2 separate regions of the Homo sapiens genome follow, and region 2 is linked to region 1. The links come from fine-mapping of genetic effects on gene expression. Tissue or cell type: whole blood. Region 1 holds a variant in brackets; the other region holds the start of a gene. All regions are shown on one strand. Distances are between the middles of the regions. Region 1 overlaps FAM149A (family with sequence similarity 149 member A). Region 2 holds the start of TLR3 (toll like receptor 3).

Region 1 (15,725 bases):
GTTTTGAAATTTGAGAGAAGAGACAAATGAATTAAGGAACTGTTCAGGTTTTGAACAGAAGTCATAAGAAATATAGAAGTCAAGACTTGCTGGGTTTGTGAAACTTTGACCATCACAGTCTCTCTGGGCAAAACTGAAAAATGGCCTCTGTGCAAAGATCAAATCCTAGGCAGGGGTAAAGGTGAAATCAAAGGTTTGGCTTAACAAGACGTCAGATTTAGGGGTGTCTCATAGATCCCCAAGATAATAGGGCTTTAAAAAATCATAAGAGAATTGGCCCCCGGCAGTCTCAAAGGTGGACCAAGGGCCCATCTCAGGTCAGTGTGGTTTGTAACTAATGGATGGGGTGAACTCTGATAAAATTCAAAGAAACCCACAAGGTATTGGCAGAGTGATGGAAGCGCCACTGGCTTGAACTAAAAGAGGCACAGACTTTTGGACCCCCTTCCCCAGCCTTCCCTGGAGGAAAGCAGGCTGAGAGGCTACTTAGTTGCAAACCTAGGCCATTTCTTTTCCCTGAGGAAGTCTCGGTAGAAGCAACAGCCCAGAGGACAGAGCTAAGGGCTGGGGAGAAGGCAGGAAGCAGAAGTGAGTCCTCCTCAAGGCAAGGCAGCAGGAGCCTGCTGGAACCCGCAGTGGCTGCTGCCTGGCTCCGCCACCTCTCTTGTTGGACAGGTGCCCACTGGGGATGTCCTGGCTCTGTCTCACCATTGTCGGTTGGGTGTGGAGAAGGCTGTTGCCTTGTCTCTCTAGTTCGCAGGTCTTCAGATGTAAAGGAAATACCCAAGCAGAAGCCTCATCTGTACGCGGACATGCTTTAGATGATGAGACTTCTGAGCATCTTGAAAGAGCTGAGTGTATCGTGCATGTGTAAATGACCTGTGGCCAGAGGACGGTTATGGCGGATTAAAGACGGCTGTAGGTTCTTCCCATTGAGAGCTGGGGTCTATTTTCCATCTCTTTCATTCTGGGACTGCTTTGATTATGGAGTACAGTGGAGGTGACACTGCCAGTTGCCACCTTGAATAGAGCTGACGGCTTCTGCCTCGCTTTCTTGGAGCCCTAAGCTGCCACGTAGAAATTCCAACGACTTCACTGGAGGGACCACTCAGAGAAGTGTTGAAGCTGCATGAGAGAAGGCTCAACTGAGCCCAGACTTCCAGCCACCCCCGACTGCATGGTGTAGACACATGAGTGAAGCCTTCTTAGAGCCTCCACACCAGACCACCCTCCACCTGTATGCCACTGAGCAACCCCACGGGGAGCAGAAGAAACACTCAACCTGCCGCAATTCCTGAGTTCTGTGGATTATGAGCATAACAACATGACTGTTGATTTAATCTACATTTGGGGTGGTTTGTTATGGGGTAATAGATATCTGGGACACATTCACACATATACATCCTAGCTGTGTGACCTCGAACATGTTACTTAAGGTCTCTGACATCAGTATTTTTATCAACAAAATTGTAATAATAGTGTCTACCTACTATGGGTGTTAAATATATGTAAGAATATATGTAAAATAATATATATAAAAGTAAAAGCAGCTAGCATATGTTTGGATCTTAAATGACTTTGTGTTCGATTTTTACTTTTTTTTTTTTTTTTTTTTTTTTTGAGACAAGAGTCTTGCTGTCTTGCCCAGGCTGGTCTTGAACTCCTGGGCTCTAGTGATCCTCCCATCTTGGCCTCTCAAAACACTGCGGTTACAGGTGGGAGCCATCACACCAGACTCCTTTCTTTTGTTTCCCTGGCATGCCCATCCTCCCACCCCTGGCAATATAAATAATATCAGCAAGTCTGTGTGGGCTTAAGATACCATAGTTTTCCTGATAGATATGTATACACATACACACACATCACACATATACACATATACATGTATCAGGATTTAAAATCTCATTAATTTTATAATTTATAACCACTTACCACTTTTATAAAAGTGGGGAGGATTCCAGTGTTCTTAGTTCAACAATGGATTACTGTTTTGTTTGTGTTTGTTTTTTTGAGACAGAGTCTCCCTCTGTCGCCCAGCCTGGAGTGGGTGGGGCGATCTCCGCCTCCCAGGTTGAAGTGATTCTCATGCCTCAGCCTCCTGAGTAGCTGGAATTACAGGCACGCACCACCACACCCAGCTAATTTTTGTATTTTTAGTAGAGACTGGGGTTTCACCATGTTGGCCAGGCTGGTCTTGAACTCCTGATCTCAAGTGATCCGCCCACCTCAGCCTTCCAAAGTGCTGGGATTACAGGCGTGAGCCACCCTGGCTGGACTACTGTTTTTGTTATTGGTAGTGATTTCTTGTCACCGTGCTAGGGTGGTGCATCAGAAATAAACTGGGCTTTTTAGTAAAAACTCGGAAATACATGGTTTACCTCTGTAAATACGGGATACTTGGCAGGAGAAATTGTACCTGTTGAAACTTAGATGGCCTCAGCTCTCAAAAGAGACTGGCTACGGCAGGACGGGGATGAGTGTTGTACCGGCACCCAGTGCACTAACTGTCATTACTAAAATCCCTGTCGTGGGAAAGGCATGCCTCGTGCAGTGCCCACCCTCTGAGACTCAAAAATGTAGTTCACCTCCGCGACCTCACCCCTTCTTCCCTTAGCATGTGAAAATGACGGCTTGGCAGTTTCACCAGCTCACAGGAGAGCGTCCAGCTGCTCTGCTCCTGGTATAATCCTGGGCCTCCAAAACTGAAACGAGCACATGGTAACGCAAGCGGCAGGCATGCTCGGGGTGTGCAGGAGATGCACCGGCTTGTGTGAGCCGGTAGGGCAGGACGGGCGTGGAAGGGTCCACGTCTTTAGTATGCATGCTTAGATCTAGCGTTCCTGTTGATGGAGTAATGGTTCTCGCATTGACCAGATCCGGGGCTTCATTTTTTAAACCTCATTCGTCCACTCCCCACCCCAGCCTGGTGTGCGCACCCTTTGATGGGGCGGGGATAGGCGAGATGGTCCTGTGGTTCTCTGCCTTCTTCTGGTGAATTAAAATCCGATTTGGAAGAGAGAAGGGCAGCCAGCACCAGTATGCACAGCCCCCGGCCCCAGAGACCCGGGAAGGAGTAGGGAGGCCGGGCCGTGCGCGGAGGAGTGGCCGCTGGGTTGGAAACCCGGCCCGGCAGGGAGCGGGGAAGGCGCGCTTTCCCGGAGGTCGGCGCGGGGCCGGGGCCGGGGCCGGGGCCCGGAGCGGGGATGGGCGGGCGCAGCCGGGATTAGCTGGCGGGCGAGGGCGCAGCGCAGGGAGGAGGAGGGGAGGCGGCGCCGGCGCGGGCGGGGCGGAGGATCTGGAGAGGGAAGGGGCGTGCGAGCCCCGCGGACCCCGGGCGCGCCCGGGCCGCCTGAGCTGGGCCAGCCGCGCGGCGGGCGCGGGCGCGGGCGCGGGCGCGGGCGCGGGCGGGTGGGGAGCCCCAGCCCCGGGGCCGCGGGGGCGCGTGACCGGCTGTCTGCGTGGGGCCCGCGCGCGGTGCCTCTGCCTGACGGTGCCCGAGCCTAGCGCGGAGCCTGGCGCGGGGGCTGCGAGCACAGGCCCGGGGCTGATCGTAATCGGGTGAGTCTCATCCGGCAGCAGGGCTCGCCTTCTGGCCGCTCTGCAGGCGATGTGCGCGGTGTTCTCCGCCCGCGGGCCGGCTGCGTCTGGCCCGGGCTTCCCTGCAGGCACTCGGGAAGCGTCAGGCCGGCCCCGGGCATGGCTCACGCGGGGAAGCGTTCGCCGCCAAAGGGACTCCTTCGTCACTGCGGTCGCTCCTGGGACTTGCTGGTGTTGGGTCAGGGCGGTGTGAGTGTTCCGTGCTGAGGAGCGGCTTCCCATGGCCACCCTGGAGTGCCCCTGTGTGTCCCCCCATCCAGAAAACCAGCCTGCATTTTAACCCGTTCAGAGTACAGTGCTTATGTCAGACAGTCCTGTCAACTAGGAATAGAAAATTTTGAAAGCTGCTGTCACTGACATTAGAATTTCTACAAAGCAGTGTGGCAGAGGTTTGTGGGCTGTCAAGAAGCAACCTAAAACAGTAACTCTGGATGATGATTTTCCTGACAGCTGGAATGGAGTCATGGAGATTGGAACTCACCCTTAACCTCCATGCGCCAACAAATGAGTGCAGTCTAGTTTAGTGACTGCACTTCAGTCCACCCTACGAAGACCTGTCCCCAAATCAACAGCCTTGCTCTATTTAAACAGTATGGACAGGAACTAGTATAGAACTTGCATGTCTATGTTTAGAAGCTTCATGGACATGCCACCATATTCAAGTTTTAAAATACCTGTGGGATGCATCCTGTAAGTTGTGTACACTTTCTTAGACTGTGTAGGATACAGAACTAGTCCATAGTTTATAGGGGATTAAAGAGGTTCAACATTATGCATGAGGGACCAGTAACCAATCCTTGGTTAGAGAACAGAGAAACCAAAGAACCAAAACAAGATGTGAAAGAGAAAAAAAAAAAGAAAAAGACAAGAAAGGGATTTTGTAGGCTCTGCTGTTAATTCATGATGTTAGTAACTTGTGCCACTGGAGAGACAGGCAGGTCAGTGGCCTGGTTCCTCGAAGAAACTCTGTCCCTATCTTCTTTGTGCTCTTGGGCAATCATTGAGTTACGGACTTAAATTCCTGTTCACCTCGTTTTTTTGTGAATTGTGTGGTCAAGTTTGTATGTTATTACACTGAACTCTGAAGCTCAAGAAATTGCTTAAAAGGAGATACAGAGGGGAAGGTCAGAGAGGAAAAAAGAGGGAGAAATGGCATGGAGTAGGGGAGTTTTAAGGCACCTAATTCGTAATAATTGGTGTGACTGTTACCCAACTTCCCATTTCCCCCTGCCCTGCATCCCAAGACCTCCTGGGCTCAGCTCTGCGTCCAAGACAGTGGGAAGCCTGGTCCTGGAAAGGATGTGGTGTGATGTGAAGAGAGATGAGTTCCTCCGTTTTGTAAATAATTTTCTCCTTAATTTGAAAAGAGCTTCCACCCTTTCCCCTGAAAAAGAGTGAATTTCCTAGAGGAATAAATTATTCATTGAAACAAACTCGCATGCGTCCCATTTTGAATTTGGCTTCAAAGTTGCACAAAAGCAGGAGGAGGAGCTAGAAGCAGGATAGACCGTCTTGAGCAGAGCAGATGCTCCGTTTGGCGGTGAAAACCATTTGGGGGAATATCAGCTGCCCAAAGAAGAGCTGTGACTTTTTAACGAGTAAAACGTTATCCAATAGTGTCTTGAATCTGGGGAATATTTTCATGTCAGGTCACGATGTAATCCTATGTTTCAGGCATAAACATTCAGAGTAATTCTGTAGTGAAAATGAGTTCCGCATTTGAGTTGCTAATTTCGTCTTCGCCGTTTGAGTCTTTCAACCGAGGGCATCTTTTGTGTGACGAGTGTTATTTCAGGTGCTTAGCTTAAAAGATGAATAAGGTGTCAAGGTCACAACAAAAAGTTAAAATGTGAAAAGATCTATATAATACAAAATGCTATGGGAGGTCCAAAGAAACAAGAACACAGCATCTTCGTAGAGTAGCAGGTGATGATGATAATAGCAGTGAGAGGACAGTGCGGTGGCTCATGCCTATAGTCCCAGCAGTTTTGGAGGCCAAGGCAGGAGGATCACTTGAGCCCAAGAGTTCAAGACCAGCTTGGGCAATATAGTGAGACCCCATCTCTACAAAACATTAAAAAGTTAGCCAAGCATGGTGGTAGACACCTGTAGTCCCAGCTACTAGAGAGGCTGAAGGTGGGAGGATAACTTGAGGCCTGGAGGTCGAGCTTACAGTGAGCTGTGATCCTGCCACTGCACTCTAGCCTGTGGAGCAAAGCAAGACCCTGTGTCAAGTAATAATAATAACATAACAATAATAATAGCAGTGAGCAGGTAAACCCGATTTATGTAGCACTGACTGACACTTCATATACTTTATCTACAGATGTGGACACTGAATTCAGGAGAGGAAAAGTTAACTTGCTTAAAGCCTCAGTGGCAGAGCAAATTTGAACCCCCCATTATTATTCTGTAGATATGTATCACAAAAGAACAATGTTTTAGCTAATTCATCATGCTGAGTTTTAAAATTATTTCTCAGTCATATATTAACTCCTATACCAGTATGTTTTTCTTAGTGTTCAAAACAAATCTATTTGATGTAACTTTTAGTTGTTATTTTATGTCATTAGTATTTGTATGTTTACCTAAAAAGTTACTGAGTCACATGTAAACAAGAAATAATTAATGGCTTGAAAGCAACTGAAGAGGGCTAAAGGTAAAGCAGTTTGTCAGCATAAAGCGTGTCCTTTATTCTTTTCTCTGGGGCCCTTTCTTTAACATCTTTATCCTCAGAGTTACCTGGTTGTCCGTAAGATACCTAAGCAACAAAGAGAATAAAAACAATCATATAATTCTATTATTCTCTCTTGCATGAGACGTATCTATGGAAGGTAGATGTTCTCGCCAATCTGTACATGGTAATTACTTTGTTTTAAAAATTCTCTTTGTTGGCTGGGTGTGGTGGCTCATGCCTGTAATCCCAGCACTTTGGGAGGCCGAAGCGGGTAGATCACTTGAGGTTAGGAGTTCGAGACCAGCCTGGCTAACATGGTGAAACCCTGTCTCTACTAAAAATACAAAAATTAGCTGGGCGTGGTGGCAGGCGCCTGTAATCCCAGCTACTCAGGAGGCTGAGGCAGGAGAATTACTTGAACCTAGGAGGTGGAGGTTGCAGTGAGCTGAGATCAATTAGGTAGCCTTATAATCGAAAGCAAAAGCAAACTTTTTAAAAATGCATTTTAGAGTGGTGTTCTAACTAGAAATATTGAAAGTTGAAGTTTTTCCTGATTCATGACCATATCTTATGTTAATATATGTTTTATTTGTAAGGGAAAATAAGATTTCTATTGAAGAACAGAAGTTGTTGATTATTAAACATCAGGAAGATATTTTGACTAGAGGAAGTAAATGTTTTAAGCGGTTCATTGAAAGGACATTTCAATGATTAACAGGAACTGTGCTACACCAGTTAGGCTTAATAGTTTATTTAACATCTAGATATTTCTTCTGTTTTAGTTCTTCATTAAATTTTAATATCTTCTAACTCTTGAAAACTCAGTATACCCACAAACAGCAATGCTAGATTAAAGCAAGTTAGGTGTCTGTGTGGCTTCTGAGTCTAAAGAATTTGATGTTTCTTAATTAATATGGGATTAATGATTTTTTTACTGGAGGAGTGGTTGGGTTTTGTAAGTAAGTCCCTTGTCCCTGGTCAAGGGACAACTGGGACCTGAAATCCCTGAAATACTGTGAACTGTTTGGGGCAACTTTTCCTTCTCTGGCTGAGTCACAAAAAGTTGATGTTGTCTTCAGTTCACATAAAGGTACATATAGGTTAATGGCAACCTTGATTTTAAGAAAAAGAAAAATGATGACATCCTAAGTCTCAGTTTCATCAGGATGGGGTGTGTGTGTGTGTGTGTGTGTGTGTGTGTGTGCGCTCATGCACAGGTGGGTTTGGAGGGATGTGGCAGAACGAGAGGAGCAACTTTGTATAAAAGAGAAATTTTAAAAGTCTTAATGAATAAAACTATATTATTACATTAGGGAGACTCGTCATGTTTTATTTTATTTCCAGAAGAGGACTGTCAGAAGGACGTAGAAGGCACGGTTTTACTGTGAGGAGCAAAGATTCTTTACCTACGCATTTTACAAGAAATGTGCAGAAAGCCATTGATAAATATACCTGGTAAGAATTCACCTTGCTTCAGATTACAAAATCACAAAATGCCCGTAACAAATGTGGGAAGGAAGTTAGTGACTGGCCATGAATTTCTAAAAGTAAGATGCAGTTTTATTTTTAACCTAGTGTAAACATCACACTGTAAAAATATTTCAAAATTAGTATACTGTGAAATTAATAAATATATTTAATGAAAGAAAGAGGAAGCAGGCTCAGAAAAGTGAAGCCACTTAGCCATCCAAGCCCTTCCAGCAAATGTGATTTCTTTGCTCATGTTCATTCCTGCAGCAAATCCTTGTCATCCTTTTCCTCCAGCGGAAGCCATACACCCACGGGAGCCCACACCTCTTGGTCTGGGTCGGCCACACAGAGCTCTACCACCGGCTCATCCACGGAGAGGGGCTCCGTTTATTCCTGGAGAGATGACGTATGTCTCAGAATATTTTGGATAATCTTGTAATTACAGTTTATAGTGAAGAGTTGCTTCCTTATATTCAAAATTATTTTTACCAATTATAAAAGCATGACCTATTGCATACATACATGTACATACATGTAAAAGCATGTACATGTTACATGTGAAAATAATAGATCACGAACCGTGGAGGAAAACAGAACTCCCTCGTGACCTTCTGGCCCCGTCTTAGCTGCCCGCAGTTTTCTTGTTTCCACCCTGCAGCCGGCTCTCCGGGTGTGTGCTCCTTGTGACTTCTTGGATGGTATCCATGGCCGGAAATTCAGGACTTGAATAAGAAAGAAATGCTGGAAAAGTAAAAGCTGTGGCAGCCACTGTGATTAGAGAACTCCCCGCCAGTATTCCCAGTCGGATATTTCACCTTCACCCCCTACC[G/C]CTGGGGGCGCTGTTGCCTCTGAACTGCTTTTGTCTGTGTGAGCCTGGGATTCTGGCTGGGCGAGCTCTGCCTCCACTGCTCCAGCTTGCTCAGGAGCTCACTGGCTCCAGTCTCCTCCCTCCCCCTCCCTCCAAGGGTCTCCGTGGATCCCAGGACACAGCCCTCCTTTTTAAGGCCCACCTGGCTGCAGCACCTTGGGTGTTCTGTTTTACCTCGTTTATGCTGGGTGTTTTGTTGTTGTTGTTGTTGTTTTTTGCTTGCTTGCTTTCTCTCTCTCTCTGTCTCTTTTTTTTTTTTTTTTTTTTTTTTGAGACGGAGTCTCGCTCTGTCGCCCAGGCTGGAGTGCAGGGGCGCGATCTCGGCTCACTGCAAGCTCCGCCTCCCGGGTTCACGCCATTCTCCTGCCTCAGCCTCCCGAGTAGCTGGGACCACAGGCGCCCACCACCACGCCCGGCTAATTTTTTGTATTTTTAATAGAGACGGGGTTTCACCGTGTTAGCCAGGATGGTCTCGATCTCCTGACCTCGTGATCCGCCCGTCTCGGCCTCCCAAAGTGCTGGGATTACAGGCGTGAGCCACCGCGTCCGGCCTTTTCTCTCTTTTTTTTTTTTAAGACAGAGTCTTGCTCTGTCACTCAAGCTGAGGTGCAGTGGTGCCATGTCGGCTCACTGCAACCTCCGCCTACCAGGTTCAAGCAATACTCCTGTCTCAGCCTCCCGAGTAGCTGGGATTACAAGTGTGCACCGCCATGCCCAGTTAATTTTTGTATTTTTAGTAGAGACGGTGTTTCACCATGTTGGCCAGGCTGGTTTCGAACTCCTGACGTTGTGATCCGCCTGCCTGGGCCTCCCATGGCATGAGCCACTGCGCCCAGCCTCTTTGCTTTCTTTAAAAGTGGTTCCCCACTCCCACTGCACATGGGAATCCGCTTCTGTCCGCAGCTGTGCAGCTGTGATTCTCAGGGGAGCCGGCAGGGCAGGTGCACCGAGGGGGTCTGAAAGGGACTCAGCTCAGCACTGCTAGGAGGACCTTTCACGCACGCAGCTCCCTTACTTAGGGGCAGCTGCCTCCTTCCTCTCCCTTACGCCCACTCACCACCATCCCTCAAGCCCGCCTTCCTTGGTAGAAGGCTGAGCACCACTGCTTTACTCTGTCCAAATTCTAGGATTCTTTTAGTACAACGTTTAATGGAATTACCAGGGAAATTCGTATAACTTCCATTAATACTCAGGCCTCACCCTAATAACCACACTTCTTAGGATAACTAAGGATTTTTTTTTCCAGTTCATTGATTTAAGGAGATTAATGGCCTTTTCTACAAAAGTAATTTTCTTTTCTGTGGTATCACCAGAAGAAAAAAAAATCTTGTATTTTGCAGGTGTGCTTAGGTGTGTCAGGCACAGCTCTGTGAGGAGCTGCCTGTGTTTGCAGACATACAGATGTGGACGTGTCTGTGTGTCTACGCTGATGTCTGTGGCAGTATGAACACGTCCATCTATACCTCTATCTATGCAAATTCTTGAGTCTCATAACTTCCGTGGCAGAAGTTTTCTCTATTTAACAGTAAAAGAATCCGAGGCTCAGAATGAGATGGCATTTCTCAGAAAGGTAACAGCTAGAGCACAGGTGTGTCTGACTGCAAAGCCACCATCTTTTTACCAAGTGATGCACCCTCCTACATAGTGGGTGACAGTAAATGTATAAGTAGCGTTGATCCAGAAGCCCGCAGTTCTGTAACTTGCAGTGTTGTAACCAAGTGTGCATTTCTGTTTAGGAATTTGACGAAGCCAGTTCACAGTCAGTGCAGCGGTTACTCTGGGAGGTGGAGGAAATGTTATTTGAAGGGAAAGTGAACCCTCAGACCCAGAGTCTGCTGGCCGAATGCGGGGAGTGGACAAGAAGATCCCTCCATTTGAGGTGGGACCTTGGTGGTGGAAGTTCTCTGGGGTGGGTTTTCCAAGCACCCACCCCTGACCTGCCTCGATACATTCAGTACATTTGGTGTGAAAGTGCCTGCCCAGTCAGAATATGGATGCAGAGCGCAGTCCTTCACTGAGAGATCACTTTCCTCTTACGGCGTCTGAGGAAATACTGAGACATTCCAGTACTCAAGCGCCTTTTAATTTGTGAGAAGCAAATTCAGGCCATCCTGAGAAGGGCATGACACATATACGAATGCAAGAATGGTGGAGGCCACCTCTTACCTTCACATTCACTGTGTGTGAGCAGCACATGTCTGTCTTCATCACAGAACACAGCGAGGGTGGGCAGAGATGATTTGCTGAACGGCTGGATAGATGGGTCTTCCCATCTCACCCATTCCTTATGTAGGGAGGAGCATGTGTTACTTTTCATATCAAAGATGGAGAATATGGATTGGGTATGAAGGCAAGCTTTTCTTTTCTTTTTGCTTTTTTTTTTTTTTTTTTTTTTTGAGATGGAGTCTTGCTCTGTCGCCCAGGCTGGAGTGCAGTGGCGCGATCTCAGCTCACTGCAATCTCAGCCTCCTTGGTTCACGCCATCCTCCTGCCTCAGCCTCCCGAGTAGCTGGGACTACAGGCACCTGCCACCACGCCCGGCTAATTTTTTTTATTTTTAGTAGAGACGGGGTTTCACCGTGTTAGCCAGGATGGTCTTGATCTCCTGAACTCGTGATCCGCCCGCCTCAGCCTCCCAAAGTGCTGGGATTACAGGCATGAGCCACCGCGCCCGGCCAAAGGCAAGCTTATCTTTCAGTCACTCAGCCAACGTACTGGGGGACAGTTTATCAAAGTTACCTGAGTTCCTGTGGATTCTGTCTGGGGAGAATGAATCAGAACACTCATGTAAATGTGGCTGGATTTCCTGGTTACATTCACTAGGTAACTTTTACAGAAATCTTGACCAACTAGGGTTGTTTTTTTTTTTCTTTTCAACCCTTAATAAGCCACCTGCCCTAAAGAGTATGATATGTCCACTAGATACTAGTTGTGGATACTCACTTTTCTGGGGATGATCACTCACCAGAAATTCGGGAGCTCACACTTATTCTTGTCACTGCTGTCTTACATCATTGATAGAAATGGAGGGAAGGTGGGAAAAGATTGTCAGGTACATAAGCCAAGTGTGCATATTTATATATTTGTATTCTTGTTATGTTTGTGTTTAACTGTGTATTAGTTAATATGTATGGAGGGCTTCTTTGTGCCCAGTGTTGCCTTAGACACCTGAGTCTGTCATATATGATCTCTAAGCCATTCATCAGCCCTGCAAGGTAACCATTATTATCCTGTTTTGCAAATGAAAGACAAACAAATGAAATTAGCCTGAGAACCTTGCCTGAGACTGAGTCAGTGGAAGAACAGTCTGGCCTAAACTCTCAAAGTCACACTTCTGTGATGCGTGATGCTTCCCACGTTCCCATACACATCTTATCATACACATGCCTTCAAAATCATTGTCTCCTACTTTTAAAATCTCCAAACATTTTCCCTTTGTCTGATCAAAAATGTCAGTAGCTTCTCTTTGACCTCGCAGAGTATTAGGAAGACAGCTGATCCTGCCCACTGACAAAGGCGTCCAGCATTTCCAGGGCAGCACTCCTGCCTCCGCAGTCCACAGACCCCCGCTCAGTGCCTGCGGACACAGCAGCAACATCAGAGAGTATGTTCAGATAAGTGACTCTCAAAAAGTATTGTTAGCTGTATTTTAGTTATACTTTTTCATGTTTATCTCATCTATAAGCCTTGGCTCCACCCATTTTGGAAATTTAGATTCTGATGAAGGGCAGGTACAGAGAACAATTTTTATAAGAAGCTTTTGATTCTGAATTGATGATAGGTGTATATGTGTGTATATAGAGAGATGTGTAATATATATATGGAACACACATGCACACACATGGTAGTTACCTTCCATGTTTGTTCCAAAGGCGCTGTGAAAGGTGGACTGGGTGCAGGATGGAAACCGCCTCACTGTGATGGATTATAAGCCTCCAGGCGGTGGCAGCAGGAGAAATGAAGCTCTGTCCTGTCGTTTCTGTTCACTAGCAGATTTTGATGACTCTATGCCATTCACACATATTTGGTGTGCCGTGACACAATGCAGTCCTTTCACTGCAACCAAAGAGGGTACAAACTCATAGAATAATTTAGGCTTTTAAGAAGCCCTTAAAATGTTTAATGATGCCTGTATTAAAGTGTTTTTAAGGACGTGAGTTTTGTCCAATGTAATATTCAACCGTTTTGGGAGGGGGGGATTCTGTACTTTACAGATAATTGAAAGATCCGCCATGATCGTTTAAGCATTGCGTTCTTGGTGTTCTATAAACTCCCATGTAGAATCTGTTTTTTTCCCATAGGTTGTGCATTTCTGGCTCTCAAATAGTCCCAGCAGCACTCTCAGCCTCTGCCCTGCCAGGCCCTGATGACACAGGGGTTGCTGACCTAACGGCACGTTCATCCCTGGAAGAAGAGGTTTACCATGTGGATGGAAAGATTGAGGAGTATTTCGCTTTTGACAGAAAAGAGGAGTAAATAGAATCTTATTTGACATTGACCTCATAAAATAATATTAATTTATTTGACATTTATTGTTATCGTATGCTCATTAAGTGTTTTGTGTATTTTTTACTCACCCAAAAGATTTCTGTTCTTTTGAGAGTAATGTACTCCCCAGAGCTTTTGGATTCCTAGCCAGCGGTGCACGTGCGGGAGCAGCGAAGAGGGTGTTCAGTGCCCTTGTAAAAGCAGACAAGGCTCCTCGCAGCCCTGGTCCTGGGGGCTCCAGGTTCCCCAGCCCTGGCTGCCCAAAAGGGCCTAAGGGGAGTTCCTGCCTCTGTACTAAATTCGTATTTTGTTCTTTTTTTTTTTTTGAGACGGAGTCTCGCTCTGTCGCCCAGGCTAGAGTGCAGCCGTGCGAGCTCGGCTGACTGCAAACTCCGCCTCCCGGGTTCACGCCATTCTCCTCCCTCAGCCTCCCGAGTAGCTGGAACTGCAGGCGCCCACCACCACGCCCGGATAATTTTTTGAATTTTTTTTTAGTAGAGACGGGGTTTCACCGTGTTAGCCAGGATGGTGTCGATCTCCTGACCTCGTGATCCTTCTGCCTCGGCCTCCCAAAGTGCTGGGATTACAGGCGTGAGCCACTGTGCCCAGCCTTGTATTTTGTTCTTAATCAAAAACTACAACTATTACATGATAAAACTTTGCCCCGTGATTGAAAATTGGCACATTAAAAAGTAACACTGATAAAACAAGTCTTAACACATTTGAGAAGACTGAAATCAAGCATCTTTTCTGATCTCAGTGGTACAAAACTGAAAGTCAATAACAGGAAGAAAACTAGAAAACTCACAAATATGTGTAAACTAAACAACCTGCTCCTCAACAACCAGGCAGTAGGTCAAAGAAGAAACCTAAAGGGAAATCAAAAAATATAATGAGACAAATTAAAATGGAAACACAACATATTAAAACCAAACTTATGGGGTACAGTAGAAGCAGCTCTAAAAGGGAAGCCTATGGCAATAAATGCCTACATTGAGAAAAAAGACATATCTGAAATAAACAACCTAACTTTATACTTGAAGGAATGAGAAAAAGAACAAACTAAGCCCAAACTTAGTAGAAGGAAGGAAATAACAAAGCTCAGAGCCGAAATAAATGAAGAGACTAGAAAAAAAAAGAAAGATCAATGAAACCAGGAGTTGGTTTCTTGTTTTTATTCATGTGTAATGGAAAAAAATTATATATGTTAAAAAAGAACGATGCTGTTTAACAAAGAATGTTTATTAATATATGTATACATGTACATACGTGAATGTGTGTAGATAGAATTATTTTAACTCTAAGCATTGATCTTTTAGTAATTGGAGTGGGTTTTTATTCTTAGTGATGATGAATGTCTTGAACAAAAACCAGCTCAGCCCGGTAGGAAATGGCGCAAACTCGGACTTCCTCCTGTTTCCCCGCGTGACTGTGTCAAAGATGCCGTGGCAGCAGAAGTGTTTGATCACGTCTGGACAAATATGGTAGAACTTTTGGAAGAGCTGATTAGAAAACACTGGGAAACTACACTCACAGGTACTTACATGCAGAATTTAGCTTAATGAAAAGAAAAAGTCCCTGTTCTTCGGCCCTGGGCTCCTGCTCCCCAGCTTGGCCAGACCTAGAACGTGACCAGTGAGAAGACAAGTGGGTGTTCTGACTTTACTCATGAGTGCTCTTTAGTCCCTTCAAAAAGGACGCTATTGTTTTTTGTGTTATAAAAAATAATGCAGGGCTGGCTGGGTGCGGTGGCTCACGCCTGTAATCCCAGCACTTTGGGAGGCCGAGGCAGGTAGATCACCTGAGGTCAGGAGTTCAAGACCAGCCTGGCCAACATGATGAAAGCCTACCTCTACTAAAAATACAAAAATTAGCCGGGCGTGGTGGTATGTGCCTGTAATCCCAGCTACTCGGGAGGCTGAGGCAGGAGAATTGCTTGAACCCAGGAGGTGGAGATTGAGATTGCAGTGAGCAGAGATCACACCACTGCACTCCAGCCTAGGCAACAAGAGTAAAACTCCATCTCAAAAAAAAAGAATGCAGGGCAGGCATGGTGACTCAGAACTTTGGGAGACCAAGGCAGGAGAATTACTTGAACCCAGAGGTTCAAGGCCAGCTCAGCTTGGGCAACATAGTAACACCCTGTCTTTTCAAAAAATACAAATAAAAAGTTAGCCAGGCATGGTGGCACATGCCTGTAGGCCCAGCTACTCAGGAGGCTGAGATGGGAGGACCCCTTGAGCTCAGGAATTCAGTATTGAAAGTGAGCACTCCATCCTGGGCAACAAAGCGAGACCATCTCTCCCCCAAAAATAGCAGTGCATATGCAGTCTGGAAAACACACAGATACACAAGAACAAGGCTAGAAGTCATGTTTTTTGTTATAGTAAAAATAATTTACCTAACTACTCTCTAATAATGAGATATTTGTTTTTCATTGTTCGTGACATTATCTGTAATGTAAAATGTAAACATTGCTAATTGAATCATGCTTTAATCCTCTTACATACAAAATATTCTCTAAACTTAACATTGAACAAAAACAAATCATAAAAATGTCAGTGATGGACATTAATGACCAGTTTTATTAATCAATTTGTACAATAAGGCAATAATCACGTTAAC
Region 2 (17,404 bases), 83 kb before region 1:
CATCCACCTCCCGCCATCCACTCCCAGCCATCCACCCCCAGCCATCCACCTCCCGCCATCCACCTCCCGCCATCCACCCCCCGCCATCCACCCCCCGCCATCCACCCCCAGCCATCCACCTCCCGCCATCCACCTCCCGCCATCCACCTCCCACCTCCCGCCATCCACCCCCAGCCATCCACCCCCAGCCATCCACCTCCCGCCATCCACCCCCAGCCATCCACCCCCAGCCATCCACCTCCCGCCATCCACCCCCAGCCATCCACCTCCCGCCATCCACCTCCCGCCATCCACCTCCCGCCATCCACCCCCAGCCATCCACCTCCCGCCACCCACCTCCCGCCACCCACCTCCCGCCATCCACCTCCAGCCACCCACCTCCCGCCATCCACCTCCAGCCACCCACCTCCCGCCACCCACCTCCCACCACCCACCTCCCGCCATCCACCTCCCGCTATCCACCTTCAGTCATCCACCTTCAGTCATCCACCCCCAACCACCCACCTCCAGCTATCCACCTCCCGCCATCCACCTCCAGCCATCCACCTTCAGTCATTCACCTTCAGTCATCCACCTCCAGCCACCCACCTCCAGCCATCCACACCCAGATATCCACCTCCCGCCATCCACCTCCAGCTATCCACCTCCCACCATCCACCACAACCTCCTGCCCTGCGTGTTTGACCGTGACCACCACAGCTACTCCTTTCCTTTGGTTACAAATGCCATTAGTCTTTACTTGTCTCTTACTAAGTGATTAATTCATATTTTCCCCCAACATAACTGCTAGACCTGCCATCTTGACCCAAGAAATACACCAAGGTGTTACGGTCATAAAAATATAACTCATACTTTGAACATATGTTACAACTCCACCAAGATATTGTTAGAGACCCTGGGGATTTCAGGTCTGCGTTCTTGACAATTATGAATAGGGAACTTGGTTATGAGCCAGCCTTCAGGGGCTCTATATACTTTTCCCTGTTTTTCTCTTTTTGACTCTCATAATAAGTTGTTTTCTATGCTGTCTAAGACAACTTATGCCCTACTCTCTGGAAATCTCTATTATTTGGGCTACTCAAGTACCTCCCCCAACACACCCACCAAAAAAAAACTAGGCTTAAAACTGAGATCAAGGCATCAAGGAGTCAACTGTAATACAGCTTTTTAAAAATCTGTCCTGACCCAGTTGTGAGAAGCTGGTCAGAGGCTGGTCAGCTCCCCTCATCGAGGAGGTGATTAAGTCCACAACTGAACCACTTCCCTTACAGGGCTCTCACGCTGCAGGCCACTACACAGCCACCCGAATCACCTTAGGGCCAGTTACCATAGCACAAGGGACAGCCCCTATCCCCCAGAGCCCTCTGAAAGTATTCAAATAGCCAACCCACAGGAAACCCACAGAATCTAGCCAGCTCCACCCAGCTTGCCATACGCACACTGCTTCCCACATCTCCAGGTTGCCGTTAACCCGGCCTAGGCTCAATCCCCTGCGTGGCCCTGCCTGGCAGCCTTCTCTATTTGGAACTGTAAGTAACAAATAATTCTGCTTTTCACCTATCTGGGAGTCATTGTTTTTTGCCCTGTCATCAAAACAATCTTTAAATCATATAAAAGAGTTGAGTATTTGTATCATAAAAGGGTTTTTAACAGGAGCAAATGCTTTTTCTGCATCATATGAGATGATCATGTGTTTTTGTTTTTATTTATTATTATTATTATTGGTAGCATTTTTTTTGAGGCAGAGTCTTGCTCTGTTGCCCAGGCTGGAGTGCAGTGGCACGATCTCAGCTCACTGCAACCTCCACCTCCCGGGTTCAAGCAATTCTCCTGCCTCAGCCTCCCAAGTAGCTGGGACTACAGGCACCCACCAACACACCAGGCTAATTTTTGTATTTTTAGTAGAAACGGGGTTTCACCATGTTGGCCAGGCTGGTCTCAAACACCTGACCTCAGGTGATCCACCCGAGTTGGCCTCTCAAAATGCTGGGATTACAGGCGTGAGCCACCGTGCTGGGCCGATCATGTGGCTTTCTTTCTCATTCTGTCAATGTGGAATATTACCTCGATTAATCTTTGTTTGTTGAACCATCAAGGCATTCCGGGAATAAATCCCACTTGGTCATGATGTATAGTCTGTTAAATATGTTGCTAGCATTTTGTTAAAGATATTTATATCGGTATTTATAAGGGATACTGGCCTATAATTTTCTTTTCTTGTGGTGACTTTGGCTTTGGTAGTAGGGTGATGCTGGCCTCATCAAATAAGTTAGAAGTGTTCCTTTGTCTCCCATTTTTTGGAAAGGTTTGACAAAGGTTGGTGCTAATTTTTCAAACGTGTGGTAGAATTCATCAGTAAGCCATCTAGTTCAGAGATCTTGTTGTTGGAATGCTTTGGTTACTGATTCAAACTCCTTACTAGTTATAGGTCTATTCAGATTTTCTATGGCTTCATGTTTCGGTCTTGGTAGGTTGTGTGTTTCTAAGGATTTGGCCATTTCACTGACATTATCCAATTTGTTGGCATATGGTTCTTCACAGTACTCTTATAATACATTTTTAAAAAATAGAATCCGTTTTAATGCCTCTTTTTCCTTTCTGGTTAGAATTATTCTGGTTAGAATTATCTGGTTAGCTATATTATCAGCAGTTTCTTTGTGGTTATCGTGGGAATTGCATGCAACATTTTAAAGGCATACCAATTTAATTTGAATTGATACCAATTTAACTTTAATTGCACACAAGTGGACTTATAAATATCTCCACCTCCTGTGACTTTATGCTATTTATGTCCAGAGTACGTCTTTATACAACATGTACTCAACTAACATAGATTTATAATTATTTTTATGCATTTATCTTTTAAATTCTCCAGAAAAGAAAAAAGTGAAGTTACAAACCAAAATTATAATAAAACGTTTCTTTTTTAACCATGTGCCTAAGCTTACTGAAGATCTTTATGTCTTTATATGGCTTTGAATTACCATCTAGAATGATTTTATTTTAATCTAAAGGATCCCTAGTCTTTAGCATGTCTTGTAGGGCAGATCTAGTGATAATGAACTCCCTCCACTTTTCCTTATCTGGGAATGTCTTAATTTCTCCTTCATTTTTGAAAGACAGTTTTGCCAGATATAGAATTCATGATTGACAGATTTTTTTTTTTCTTTCAGCACTTTAAATATATCACCTCACTGCATTCTGGCCTCAAAGGTTTTTACTAACAAATCCACCAATAATTTTACTGAGGATCTTTTGTATGTTGTGAGTAACTTCTCTCTTGCCGCTTTCAAGATTATGTGTGTCTTAGACTTTTATTTTGATTATAATGTGTCTCAGTGTGAGTCTCTTTAGGTTCATCTTACCTAAAGTTCATTGGGCTTCTTGGATTTTTAGACTCGTGTATTTCATCACATCTGTGAAATTTGGGACCATACTTCTTCACACCACCTCCTTGCCCCGTTCTGTGTCTCTTCTTTTTCTGAAACTCCCCTAATGCCTATAGTGGCCTGCTTGCCAGTGTTTCATAAGGCCATGAGACTCTATTCCCTTTTGTTTATTCTTTTTTTTCTTTCCTGTTTTGCTCCTCAGACTCAATAATTTTAATTGTCTTGCCTTTAAATTTACTGATTCTTTCTTCTGCTTTCTGAAATCTGCAGTTGAAATCCCTCTAGTAAATTTTTCAATTCAGTTGTATTTTTCAGCTGCATAATATATATATATATATAAAAATATATATATATATATAATTTCAACTTCTCTGCTGACTTTTTTTTTTTTTTGAGACAGAGTTTTGCTCTGTCACCCAGGCTGGAGTGTAGCGGTGCGATCTCGGCTCGCTGCAACCTCTGCCTCCCAGGTTCAAGTGATTCTCCCACCTCAGCCTCCCAAGTAGCTGGGATTACAGGTGCGTGCCACTATGCCCAGCTAATTTTTGTATTTTTAGTAGAGACAGGGTTTCACCATTTTGGCCAGGCTGGTATCAAAGTCCTGACCTCAAGTGATCAGCCCACCTCGGCCTCCCAAAGTGCTGGGATTATAGGCATGGGCCACTGCTGTGGTCTCTGCTGACATTCTTATTTTGTCCGTTCATTGTAGTCCTCATTTTCTTTGGTTCTTTGTGTTTTTCTTTAGGTCTTTGAGCATATTCAAGACAGCTATTTTAAAGTCTTTGTCTAGTAGGTCCAATATACATGCTTTCTAGGGATATTATCTGGAGATTTACATTTTCCTTTGATTGGACCATGTTTTACTGCTTCTTTGTGTACCCTATGATTTTTTGTTGGCACTTAAATACTTGAATAAACAGCCACCTCTCTCAGCTTTTGCAGAGAGGCAAAAAGAGATAACCAGAAGCTGAGCTGCTGCCTCCTCTAGAACATGACCATGCTGAGCCAAGGACGGAGTGGGGCAGGGGTAACGAAAAATGCCATACAATTTCCTACATTTTTAAGGTGAATTTTTTATTAGGTATTTACGTGGTTGTTGTAGACCTTTGTTTTCCAGAGCTACTCTAAGATTTGTTCAGCAATTTTCTGGTCATTTTATGATAGTTCCATGGGGAAATGAGGAATTGAAACTTCCTAGTCTGCCATTTTGCTGATGTCAATCCTTTGAGGAAGTTTTGACTAGTTAAGACTATCACTTTGAAAAACCAAAAGCAAACAATAGATCAAGCAAAATTAGCAACACACTTAGACCAAAGCTAATTTCGGTAATGTCCATAAAACCTCTTACAAATCCATAATAAAAATATAAAAATCAAGTAAATGACATAAACAGCTAATTTAAAGAAAAAGAAATGCTACTTTTTTTTGATGACTTTAAAGTATACACTCACCTCTTAAACAGTCCTATTTCTAGATAAAGAATAAGACTAGGCATTCTATACATGCTGTAAACTATATTAGAGGTTTCTTTTTGAGTTTTGGATTTACCTATTTTATCAACAAATATTTATGATAGTAAGGCTTCCCTCTCCCCAGTTCTTTCCACTTTTACTTCCTACTTTTTAGGGACCAGCTCTCATATTCTTATTATAAGATCATCCCATGATACAGATAAAGGTTACTCTTAGGTGAAAAGCAAGAGGCATGTTCAAAAGCAACAGCATCCCTTCCAACTCTGGGCTTTCTTTTAATTTCTCCTGTTGATTTAAAATTTGCATTATAAAATGGAGGTCAATTTGCATGATCATAAACTCTCCAATAACCAATTCAATCGGATTATGGTAAGTTATGGCTTGCTTTTGATACTTCAGACTTCCTTCTGTGATCACTTAGAAGTTTTGTCAGACATTTGTGTTTCCATTTATTAGAAGCCTAGTGGATTTAATTAGGATATTTTAAATGGAGGATGATAGTGAAGTTGTATCTATAATTTTACTTTTGATTTTAATAAATAAATATTGAATTCAGGGCCTAGGGACTGAACAGCCGTGTCATAACATTGTTAATAAAGGAGAGACCCCATTCACCTAAATCCATTTCATAGATTTATAAGAAACAACAAGATGTTACCACTTTTCTATTTTTGCTTGTGTTGCGTGGGTTTTTGGTGTCATATCCAAAAAAATCACTGGCCAAGGCCAATGTCAAGAAGCTTTTTCCTCTGTGTTTCTTCTAAGAGTTTTACAGTTTCACATCTCATGTTTAGGTATTTAAACTAATTTGAGTGGATTTTTTGTGTATGGTGTAAGACAGGGTTCAATTTTATTCTTTTGCATATGGATACTGAGCTTTCCAACACCATTTACTGGAGAGACTATCCTGTCCTCTGTTGTGTGTTCTTGGCAGCCCTGTCAAAGAACTTGACCATCTATGCATGGGTTTATTTATGGGCTCTCTAGTCTGTTCCATTAGTCTGTTTTTAAGCCAGTACCATACTGTCTCGATTACTGTAGCCTTGTCACATACTTTGAAATCAGGACATTTTATGCCTTCAGCTTTGTTCTTGCTCAAGATTGCTTTGGCTATTTGGGGTCTTTTGTGGTTTCAAATACATTTTAGGAAAATTTTCTATTTCTATAAAAATGCCATTGAGATTTTGATAGAGATTATGTTTGAATGTGTAGGCCACTTTGAGTAGTATGGACATTTTAATAATATTAATTCTTCTAATCCATGAACACAGGATGTCTTTACATTTACTTGTGTCTGTTTTAATGTCTTCCATCAATGTTTTATAGTTTTCAGTGTTCAAGTCTTTCACTTCTTTAAGTTTTTTCTTAAGTATTTTATTCTTTTCAATGCTATTGCCTTCACAATAGCTAAAACATGGAAGCAACCTATATGCCCATTGATGGATGAATGGATAAAGAAAATATGGCATACACATACAATGGAATATTATTCTACCTTACAAAAGGAAGTTCTGCCATTTGTGACGACATGGATGAACCCAGAGAATGTTACGCTGAGTGAAATAAGCCAGATGCAGAAGGACAGAAGGATGCTACATGATATCATTTATATGATGAATCTGGAATAGTCAAACTCATAGAAGGAGGGAGTGACATGGTGGCTGTCAGGGGCTGGGAGGAGGCATAAACAGAGAGGTATTAGTCAAAGGGCACCAAGTCCAGCTTATACAATATGAGTAAGCCCTAGAGATCTACTGTACAGTTTAGTGCCTATAGTTAACAATGCTGTATTATATATTTAAAAATTTGCCAAAAAGGTAATTTCATGTTGTGATATATCACAAAAATAATAATAAATGAATAGAATAAAGGGAAACTTTTGGAAGTGATGGATATGTTTATGGTATGGATTGTGGTGATGGTTTCACAGAAGTATACTTGTCTTCAAGCTCATCAAGTTATATATATTAAATATTCACAGCTTTTTGTATATCGATCATACCTCGATAGAGTGGCTTAAAATGAAGGAATAAAACAGTGCATATCTCATGACATTAAAAAAAAAGTATCACTTTCAACTACCTTGTAAAATTACAAAAAATACAATAAATAAATAAAAGTTTAGGTTAGGCTGGGCGCGGTGGCTCACGCCTGTAATCCCAGCACTTTGAGAGGCCGAGGTGAGTGGATCACAAGATCAGGAGATCGAGACCACCTTGGCTAACATGGTGAAACCCCGTTTCTACTAAAAATACAAAAATTGGCCAGGTGTGGTGGCAGGGACCTGTAGTGCCAGCTACTCAGGAGGCTGAGGCAGGAATTGTTTGAACCGGGAAGGCAGAGGTTGCAGTGAGCTGAGATCGTGCCAGTGCACTCCAGCCTGAGAGACAGAGTGAGACTCCACCTCAAAAAAAAAAAAAAAAAAAAAAAAAAAGTTTAGATTAAACCAGAAGCTCTCTGTGGCAAACATTGGTTTCTTTTTCAGAGGGGAAATTCAACTTCAATACTGCTCAGTGGACATGAGCGAGAGTAGGGAGAGGGACATTTGTTATTTTCTCTCTTAAAGTTGTTGCTGGGGTCTTTGGTTGAGCCTAGTTCAAACTAGCGAAAGCTCAGTGAGCAGAAATAGAAGTGACACTGGTAAGAGGAACTGTATCTTCACTTTAGAGAAAGGATTCAGAAAGAAAAGAAATGCTTCCTAGAATTTCAGCCAATACAGATCAGAACCATGTCCTTTCTGAATGGGGGCTGTGAAGGGACCAGTTGAGTGCAGTTCACAATGACTGTCTATCTGGTGCTCTCAGGGAATTTAACCATTTGTTTAGGTTCATAATATATTCATCGCATTACATACCCATGAGAAGTTTGAATGATGAAAAGGTCTAGCCTTACTTTGGCTTCCTGCCAACCCAGAGAACATTGGTTGGTCCAATCTCCTTGTTCCTATTCTTAAAAAGTAAACTGATACTAATGGCACAATATATGTTATTTGGGTGATGAATACCCTAAAGACCCTGACTCCATCACTATGCAATCTACGCATGGAACAAAATGGCACTAGTACTCCCATAAATCTATACAAATAAAAAAGTAAACTGAGGCACAATACAGTTTTACAGTGCTTCTGAACCAGCAATGATTCATGAACCAGAAGTGGTTGGGGAGCTCCACCAAGGGAACACAAGAGAAGGCTTTTTCAGGACAGAGACAGAAGTAGAGCAAAGACAGCGCTTGACTGTTTACAGTTATACAGCTACCTTATTTGGTCTATCTCATTGGAAAGTCCTTAGTTATATAAGTTTGTTGGCTGCTTCTGATTGGTTGTGTTTACGTTTTCTTTAATATAGGCATTTACAAGATATAGTGCTCAAGTTATTATGTTTGCGTATGTCACTTATGTTTGCAGATCAAGCAAGGTCGAGGTCGCTTATGAGCCCTTGCTGGTTTGGTATGTTCATGGATTCTTCTGGCCTGGTCTCCATTTTAATGTACTTTAACACCATGAATAAAGGTTTACTTCTGAGACTCTAAGAGCCCGTTTAAATTAAACCTATGCATGATATTGCCTCAAATACCCAACAGCTCACTCATAATTGGATATTCATTGCTGGCACAAATGTTAAGTATTACTGAGCAATTAGTTCTCTCTATATTTGGCCCTCACAGAGTGTAATTATTGTATTGTTCAGTACTAATCTGCCTTTTCACATACATGCATTGAGAGGAGAGTCTTCTGTTTGCCCCACAATTTCAATTCTCTATATTTGTGGTTAGAAACTGCGGTGACACAATCCTCATGTCTAAATTCATTCATTCGGGAGATTGTAAAGATGGTTCCGTAAAGCCTCAGTATTGTAGGTGCTGATAATGATGATAATGAAAATGATAAACTTTCCCTTATAAATCTTATAATGAATTGACTAGACTGCCTACAGACTATACACTATCTTTGTCTATAGGTAAAATGGTTGTAATTGGCCGGGCGCAGTGGCTCACGCCTGTAATCACAGCACTTTGGGAGGCCAAGGTGGGTGGATCACGAGGTAAGGAGATCGAGACCATCCTGGCTAACACGGTGAAACCTCGTCTCTACCAAAAATACAAAAAATTAGCCGGGCGTCGTGGCACGTGCCTGTAGTCCCAGCTAGCTACTCTGGAGGCTGAGGCAGGAGAATTACTTGAACCCGGTAGGCGGAGCTTGCAGTGAGCTGAGATCGCGCCACTGAATTACAGCCTGGGTGACAGAGCAAGACTCTGTCTCAGGAAAAAAAAGATTAAAAAAAATAAAAACGGCTGTTTTATTAAGAATTGTTATTAGGAACGGGCAGAGAAGAACAGTGTCTGTGTAGTTCAGCATGTGAGTGGTAATTTGCTAATTATATCTGGCTTGTCACTCCGGTCTCTGTAACTTGCTGTGTTTTGTCAAGTGATTCTTCCAGAAATTTTGTGTATATTATCTTACTAAACTCTCATTAAAGAGGCCCCTCAAATGGAAGAAGGGAACTTAGAGTTTTTAGAATGTGAATAAATTTAAGGGACTTTGGCTTCTAGAATTCTGTAGATCTCTGTTTTGCTGGGAATATACAGCTTCCCATTATTCTGAGATTGGCTGATCTGTAATGCTGTGAAATATCAGTGTTTACTAAATTTGTTATTTTACATTTATGGGCATACATTTTTTTTTAATTCTCTCTCTCTCTTTTTTTGAGACAGGGTCTCCCTCTGTTACCCAGGCTGGAGTGCAGTGGCGCACTCATGACTCAATGCAAACTTGAATTTGCCTGGACTCAAGTGATCCTCCCACCTCAGCCTCCCAAGTAGCTGAGACTATAGGCATGCACCAACATGCCCAGCTAATTTTTGTAATTTTTGTAGAGATGGAGTTTTACCACGTTGCCCAGGTTGGTCTTGAACTCCTAGGCTCAAGCAATCTCCTAAAGTGTTGGGATTACAGGCATGATCCACTGCTCCCAGCCTTAATTCTTTTAAAAAGGGGAAAAATGAGGTTTTTCACTATTGCTCCAATCACCATCATAGCTAAATAAGTTAATGCACATAGTTAAGAAATGTACAGTAGAGAGAAAACAATCTGTGTTGTATTTAGAAACTAGCAAGAATTAAGGACTAATAATATCTGAATATGAACTGGTATTAAGCCCAAACTACTGCATCAGGAGACCATCAATAAAATTTATTTATCGAGAGCCATTCATTAGTCAACCAAAGTCGTGGGAAATTTAATCTGTATAAGGAGTCATAAGGCATAAGGGATAGGTATGAAGGATTGTTGAGATGATGTGTTTTATTTCGCTAATAATGCATATGACACCATTCCAATTTTTTTAAATTTAAAACAACAATCATTTATTTGCTTGCTTCTCAAGCCTGGGTAATCGTGTTTGGCAATGAGACCTTGTTGCATGCTTGCTAATATCCCACTGGTCAAAGCTAGTCAAATGGCCAAGCCTAGAGTCAGCGTGGGAGAAGGCCACACAAGGGTTTGAATTCTGAGGACGAGTCTCTTTCATTGAAGGCCAAAGAAACAGTCTACCTCAGAGGGTTGCTGGGGAGCTATAATGCAAAGAATAAACCTCACCCTGCCTTCAAGGCGCTCACAGAGAAGAAATCTTTTGAATATTAGTGAAGTTTTCCTGGACATCCCAATGGATAGATGTGAGGGACAGTCACGTACTCAGGACATCTGTTTGCTTATGGTGTTATGTTACAGATGTCACAAATGAAAATCAGAGACATGTAGCCCTGAGCCCAGTAACTATAAAGCGGTCTAGCTGAAGCTGGAGCCCACAAGAGGGCACTTTGCACCATGATGCACGCTTGTTTCTTGCCATCAGCTCTGCAATGAGTTCAAGCTAATGCCATGTCCCAGCCGTCCAGTTGTTTTATGACTTGTGTGATTGAAGCATATGGTGGCTTGTGGCATGTTCTTAGGCAAACCACTCACCTCCCTAGGTTTCGTTTTCCTAATTTCTCAAACAAGGGAGTTAGATTAGGTGGTCTATAGTTCCTTCCAATTGTGATATTTCACTATATAACAATATAGTTATAATAGATCATAGCACATCTGTAATGAAAAAAAGTGAGTTCATTTCTTAACAAGTACATTTACTTAACTAGTTGGAGTCATTAAAGCAAATTAAGAACGAAATTCTTAGTTAATCTGAACTTTTCTGGGCATACTGATCTGTTCCCTAACGCGTCTGACCGTGGAAAAGTGGATCAGCAGGAGTGGGACTGGCTCTCAGCTTTGCCATGTTTGGCTCTTTCTCTGCTGTGAAACTCAGTTTCTTCCTGGATCAAGAGGTTAATTTCTGCCGGTGTTATTTTACAGTGTTGCAAAGAGATAAAAGCCAGACGAAAGAAGGGAAAGTACTTCAGCTTTGATTAGGGATTTTTTTTTCTGTCCCTGTGACCATACACTACTCAATTCTGACAGCTTCGCATGAGTCTAGCAGAAAATTGAGGGATTCACTGTTATTCCTTAACTTGCAGAGGTCCAGACCCGCCCACATCAAATGGTGAGGTCCCCACTTTCAACTTTAGCTGTTGCTAAATCTGTGACCCTTTCAATGAAATCCAAGGATCTCAGCTTAAAAAAAGTTAAAATAAAATAAAAACTAGGTGTTTTTCAGAGGCGGTTTGAAACGCCTCTCTGAGGTTGTCAGAGATTGTTTTTGTTTTCTCCCTTTGCCCTTCTTGGAATGCACCAAACATAAAAGCATTTTTTTTCAAGCTTTACTTTCACTTTCGAGAGTGCCGTCTATTTGCCACACACTTCCCTGATGAAATGTCTGGATTTGGACTAAAGAAAAAAGGAAAGGCTAGCAGTCATCCAAGTAAGTGAAGGTGTTCATTTCACGTTCTTACTGGGCAGGGTCTCTCTTGCTGAGTAGAGTTTGCTAGCAGAATGCATGTGGTTTTAGCCTTCTTTGGTCTTTCTTTGATCTGGTGCTTGAAATCTAGTCAGAATTATTCAGGAAGGAAAGTGGAAGAAAAGGGATATGATATGGGCATGGGAGAAGGGTATAACTCAGAACACAAGTAATAGCACCAATATCTAGTTAATGTGATAATGTATTTATGCAGTATTTAATTTTTTTCTCTGTAGCATTCTGTACCTGGAAAAAACACATTAGGGAAGCTATGGAAATCATTTTGCAACAGTCTTTTTAGCAAATCACATCTTTGCCTTAAAGAAACAAAACTCCAAGAGGTTAAAAGAGCGTATCCCCTTTTGTTAGTTTTATTGGCTGGAGGGGAGACAGGAGCTGGCATTGTATGACAATGTCTTAGATAGGAGAGAACATTCAGGTATGCCTAGGAGTAAGTAAATGGCTTTCTTTCACCTAATGAAGGATAATGGAAGAAGTGGAGAAGTGGAAAGTTGTTAAGGTGTATGGGAAGATCAGAAACTGGTATCGGCAATTGTGGGGTACTCGGGTAAAAATGGAGTTGGCTTCAGCAAGTTGATTCCCAGGTTTACAGATGATTACGTGCTGGTATGTGTCTTCATATGGGCGTGCCTGTGTATGAACCTACTACAAAGGTTGCAAAGTTTACAAATCAAACTATGGATAGTGGTTAACTCCAGGTAGTCTGCCTCCAGACCCCATGTCCTAACCATCAGGCAATATTGTCTCTCACTTGGACAAAGAATGTGAATTCCATGTGCCCTCACAAAATATTTCCAAAATTCTAAGGCTGAGTGAGTCTCTTTTTAATTTTTTTTCATTTTCTTTATTTCTGCTAGATCTCATTCAACAGCAACGTTTTCTTCACTCTCATTTCATCCTTTAACTGCATTTTTGCTTGTTTTACTGAAGCATGTCCTAGAATAACCTTTTCATACAGATCGTATGGCTATAAACTTACTGAATTTTTGCATATCTCAAAATACTTATACCTTTTTATTTAGTTATTCAGATGGATGTGAAATTTCCCTATCTTATTTTATTTTATTTTATTTCATTTTATTTCATTTATCGATTTAGAGACAAGGTCTCGCTGTGTTGCCCAGGCTGAAGTACAGTGGCATGATCGTGGCTCACTGCAGCCTTGACCTCCCTGGCTCAAGCAATTCTCACACCTCAGTGTCACGAGTAGCTGGGACCACAGGTGTGAACCACTATGGCCAGCTAATTTAAAAAAAAATTTTGGTGGAGATGAGGTTTCCCTGTGTTGCCCAGGCTGGTCCCAAACTCCTAGGCTCAAGGGATCCTCCAGCCTCAGCTTCCTAAAGTGATGGGATTACAGGCATGAGCCACAGGTAATTTTCTTGGCCTGGTCAAAGGTAATTTTCTTGTTTTTTAGAGGTAAGGTCTTGCTCTGTTGCCCAGGCTGGAGTGCAGTGGTGTGATCATGATTCATTGCAGCCTTAACCTCCTGGGCTCAAGCGATCCTCCTGCCTCAGCCTCCCAAGTAGCTGGAACTACAGGCTTGTGCCACCACACTTGGCTACTTTCTAAAATATTTTTGTAGATACGGGGTCTCACTATGTTGCCCAGGCTGGTGTTGAGCTCCTGATCTCCTTCTGCCTACACCTTCTAAAGTGCCGGGATTGTGGGGATGAGCCACTATGCTTTGCCTGGATATGAAATTTTAAATTCAAAATAATTTTCTCTAAATGTTTGGAAAGCTTATCTCTATTGTTTTCCAGTGGTTCATGTTACTGATGAAAAGTTTTTTATTAATCAAGATCTCTTTTCTTTGGAAATGAAGGTTTTAGGATTTTTGTGTGCATGGTTGCAATTCTGAAATTTCATAGGAGTCTCTCCAAGTTTGTTCCTCTTTCACTCCTCCTGCCTAGCATTTGGTGAGTTTTGCCCACTGATGAAATGTCTTCAGATGGGGCAAGTCCTTAAGTCATTCAGGGATATGCTTTGTAATGGATTAGTCCTTCTCAGCAATTCTGACCTATAGCAGGAGCCCTACCAGAGGGGTACATCTCACCTAAGCAAGGAGAATGTATTGTAGGGACCTTACCTATGAGTTGGTAAATAGAGATAGGAAGTTCTGAAGGAACTGGAAGAGAGGTTTGGGACACTCTCAGAGAGGGGGCAGGTGGGGAGCTGGTCCCCAGCATTTGAGAGGTATCATTGCCAGCCCTGCATCCTTCACGTGCCTGGGCAAGTCAGCAAATGCATCCTTGCTGGCCTAGCTGTGGCATTCCTCATGGCCTGTGGATATAAAGAATGTGCACAGCTTTACAATGATTAGTGCCAGAGTTGTAAAGGCCATGAGATGGGAATATTAGTTTATGGAAGCCAGTTTTTTTTGTTGTTTTTTCTGTTTCTGAGAACTAAATTAGAATATTAGTAAAATCGCTATTTTTAAGTATATTAGAACAATTCTATATACTCACATTAGTTCTGTTTTCCTAGGATTAGTCACCTAAGGTGATTTTATTACCTGACACTTACCTGGAATAATTTTCATGTCATGACTTTTAGATCTTGTGGAATATCTATTTAGATATCATTACCACTGCTTCATCTCCATACCTTGTGGGTGTATTTGATTTTTTAAAATATCTGAAATTTGGTTGTTGATCACACCACAGAGTATCACACTGGGTACACATCCCACCAAAATAAAGTGTGACAATGTATGGAGTTGAGTGGCTTTCCTGAGCTGACTAAATGCCCATGGAAAGCTATTGTATGAGTGCATTCTCACATTGCTCTACAGAAATACCTGAGACTGGTCATTTATAAAGAAAGAGGTTCAATTGGCTGATGGTTCTGCAAGTGGTGCAGGCAGCATAGCAGCCTCTGCTTCTGGAGGAGCCTCAAGGAGCTTTCACCCACCACAGAAGGCAAAGCCAGAGCTGGCACCTTCACATAGCCGGAGCAGGAAGAAGAGAGAAGGGGAAGGTGCCACACACTTTTATTTTTTTATTATTTATTTTGGGGGGAGTGGGGGCGAAGTCTCACTTTGTCACCCAGGCTGGAGTGCATGTGGTGGGATCTCGGCTCACTGCAGCCTCCGCTTCCCTAGTTCAAGCGATTCTCCTGCCTCGGCCTTCCCAGTAGCTGGGATTACAGGCACCCACCACCACACCCAGCTAATTTTTGTATTTAGTAGAGACACGGTTACACCATGTTGGCCAGGCTGGTCTCAAACTCCTGACCTCAGGTGATCTGCCCACCTTGGCCTCCCAAGTGCTGGGGTTACAGGCGTGAGCCACTGCGCCCAACCACCACACACTTTTAAACGACCGAATCTCATAAGAATTCACTCACTCACTATCGGGAGAACAGCACCGAGGGGGTGGTGCTGAACCATCTGTGAGAACTCTGCCCCATGAGCCAGTCACCTCCCACCAGCCCCCACCTCCAACACTGGGAATTACAATTCAACGTGTGGTGTGGGTGGAGACGCAGAGGCAAACCATATCGGCTATGTATTCAACATATATTTATTTCTTCAGAGCCAACAAAGTGCCAGGTCTTGTTCTAGGCACAGACAACACCGTATGGAATAAGAACTATGTCCTCTACTATTATAGCTTCACATTCTAGTGAGAAGCAATAATTAATAATAAATAATACACAATATTGGATAATTTCCATCAACCATAGCAACGGAAAAGGCAATCTAGAAGAAGAGCAAGATGGGAGGTTTCGCTCACTGAACTTCAAGACTTGTTGTAAAGCTAAAGTAATCCGAACAATGTGGTATTGGCCTAAGAACTAACAAATATTTCAGTGGAAGAGAGTAGACAGCCCAGAAATAGACCCTCGCTTAAAACATTTACTCGGTTTCTAAGGAAAGCACAGAACAATCCGGTGGGGGAAAGAAGTCTCTTTAAAAAATGGTCTGACTGGACCAGGCGTGGTGGCTCACCCCTATAATCCCAGCACTTTGGGAGGCCGAGGTGGATGGATTACCTGAGGTCAGGAGTTCAAGACCAGCCTGGCCAACATGGTGAAACCCTGTCTCTACTACAAATATAAAAATTAGCCAGGCATGGTGGCGCGTGCCTGTAGTCCCAGCTACTCGGGAGCCTGAGGCAGGAGAATCACTTGAACCCAGGAGGTGGAGACTGCAGTGAGCCAAGATGGCACCACTGCACTCCAGCCTGGGTGACAGAGTGAGACTCCATCTCAAAAAAAAAACAAAAAACAAGATCTGACTGACTGGATATACACACAAAAAACCATGACTCCTACTTCATGCATACACAACAATTAACTTAGGAGAGGTCACACACCTTCACATAGAAGCTAACACCATAAAGCTTTTTAGAGGAGAGTATCTAAGTAATGGGAGTAGGAAAATTTCTTAGAGGAGACACAGAAATGATAAAAATAAAAGAGAAGATGATAAACTAGATTTCATCATAATTAAGAAGACATCAGTAAGAAAATAAATAGGCAACTCACACACTGGGAATAAATATTTACAAAATAGGAATCTGACGAAGGACTGACACTCAGATACATAAAAAATTCCTACAACACAATAATAAACAGGAAACAATCTAATAGATGAGCAAAATATTTGAACATATAAGGGAAGATAAATGAACAATAAGCACATGAAAATTGTTAAATATCGTTAGTCGGCAGGGAAATGCAAATGAAAACCATAATTAGCTATCACTATATGTTCAGCAGAATGATTAAAAATAATAATAAAAATAGGTACCAAATGTTGTCAGGAAAGTTGGTGGTGCAACACTTTCCCAAAGGATCTGGCAGTTTCCTGTAAAACCAAATGGCCTCACCAAATGGCCCAGGCATTCCAATCCTAGTTATTTACCCCAAAGAAATAGAACACAGTCATGTGGCACTTAATCATGGGGATATGTTCTGAGAAATGCATCGTGAGGGGACTTCATCCTTGTGGGAACGTCACAGGGAGTGCTTACACAGAACTAGGTAGTACAGCCTGTGGCGCCCAGCCTGCAAAACCAGACAGCCGGCGTGTGACTGCACTGAATACTGGAGGCAATTGTAACACAATGGGAAGTACTTGTGTATCTAAACATAGAAAAGGTAAGTGAAAATGTGGTACAAAAGGTTACAAATGGCACTTCCATAGGGCACTTACCACGAGTGGAGCTTGCAGTACTGGGAGTGGCTCTGGGTGAGTCTGTGAGTGAGAAGGGAAGTGGATGTGGAGGCCTCGGACATGACTGTGCACCACTGCAGACTTTATGAACACTGCACACTTAGGTTATACTAAACCTATTTAAAAATTTTACTTTCTTCAGTAATAATTAACTTATTATAACTGTTTTACTTTATAAGAGTTTTAATTTTTCAAAACTTTTTGACTCGTGTAATAATGCTTGGTTTAAAACAAGCACATTGTACACCTATACAAAAATATTTTCTTTGTATTCTTATTTTATAAGCTTTTTTCTATTTTTAATTTTCTTCTTTTTTTTTAACTTTTTAAACGTTTTTGTTAAAAACGAAGACACAAACACACACATTAGCCTAGGCCTGCTCAGAGTCAGGATCATTAATGTCACTGCCTTCCACCACGTCGTGTCCCACTGGAAGCTCTTTAGGGGCC

What was found.
Region 2: it holds the start of TLR3, and the variant in region 1 is fine-mapped to the expression of TLR3 in whole blood (TOPMed, PIP above 0.99).

Annotation. Positions count from the first base shown.
Region 1 is chr4:186,141,555-186,157,279 of GRCh38, forward strand. It overlaps FAM149A (family with sequence similarity 149 member A), which reads left to right. Exons shown (of 14, transcript NM_001395294.1): 2 at 7,619-7,729; 3 at 8,012-8,150; 4 at 10,349-10,491; 5 at 12,091-12,216; 6 at 12,914-13,084; 7 at 14,446-14,636. Among named protein-coding and RNA genes, the nearest start is that of FLJ38576, 42 kb to the right of the region's middle. RefSeq lists enhancers at 2,198-2,698, 2,699-3,199, 7,166-8,365 and a silencer at 8,384-8,579. The variant G/C (reference allele first, on the strand shown) is at 8,574.
Region 2 is chr4:186,057,534-186,074,937 of GRCh38, forward strand. TLR3 (toll like receptor 3) reads left to right here and starts at 11,623. Exons shown (of 5, transcript NM_003265.3): 1 at 11,623-11,715.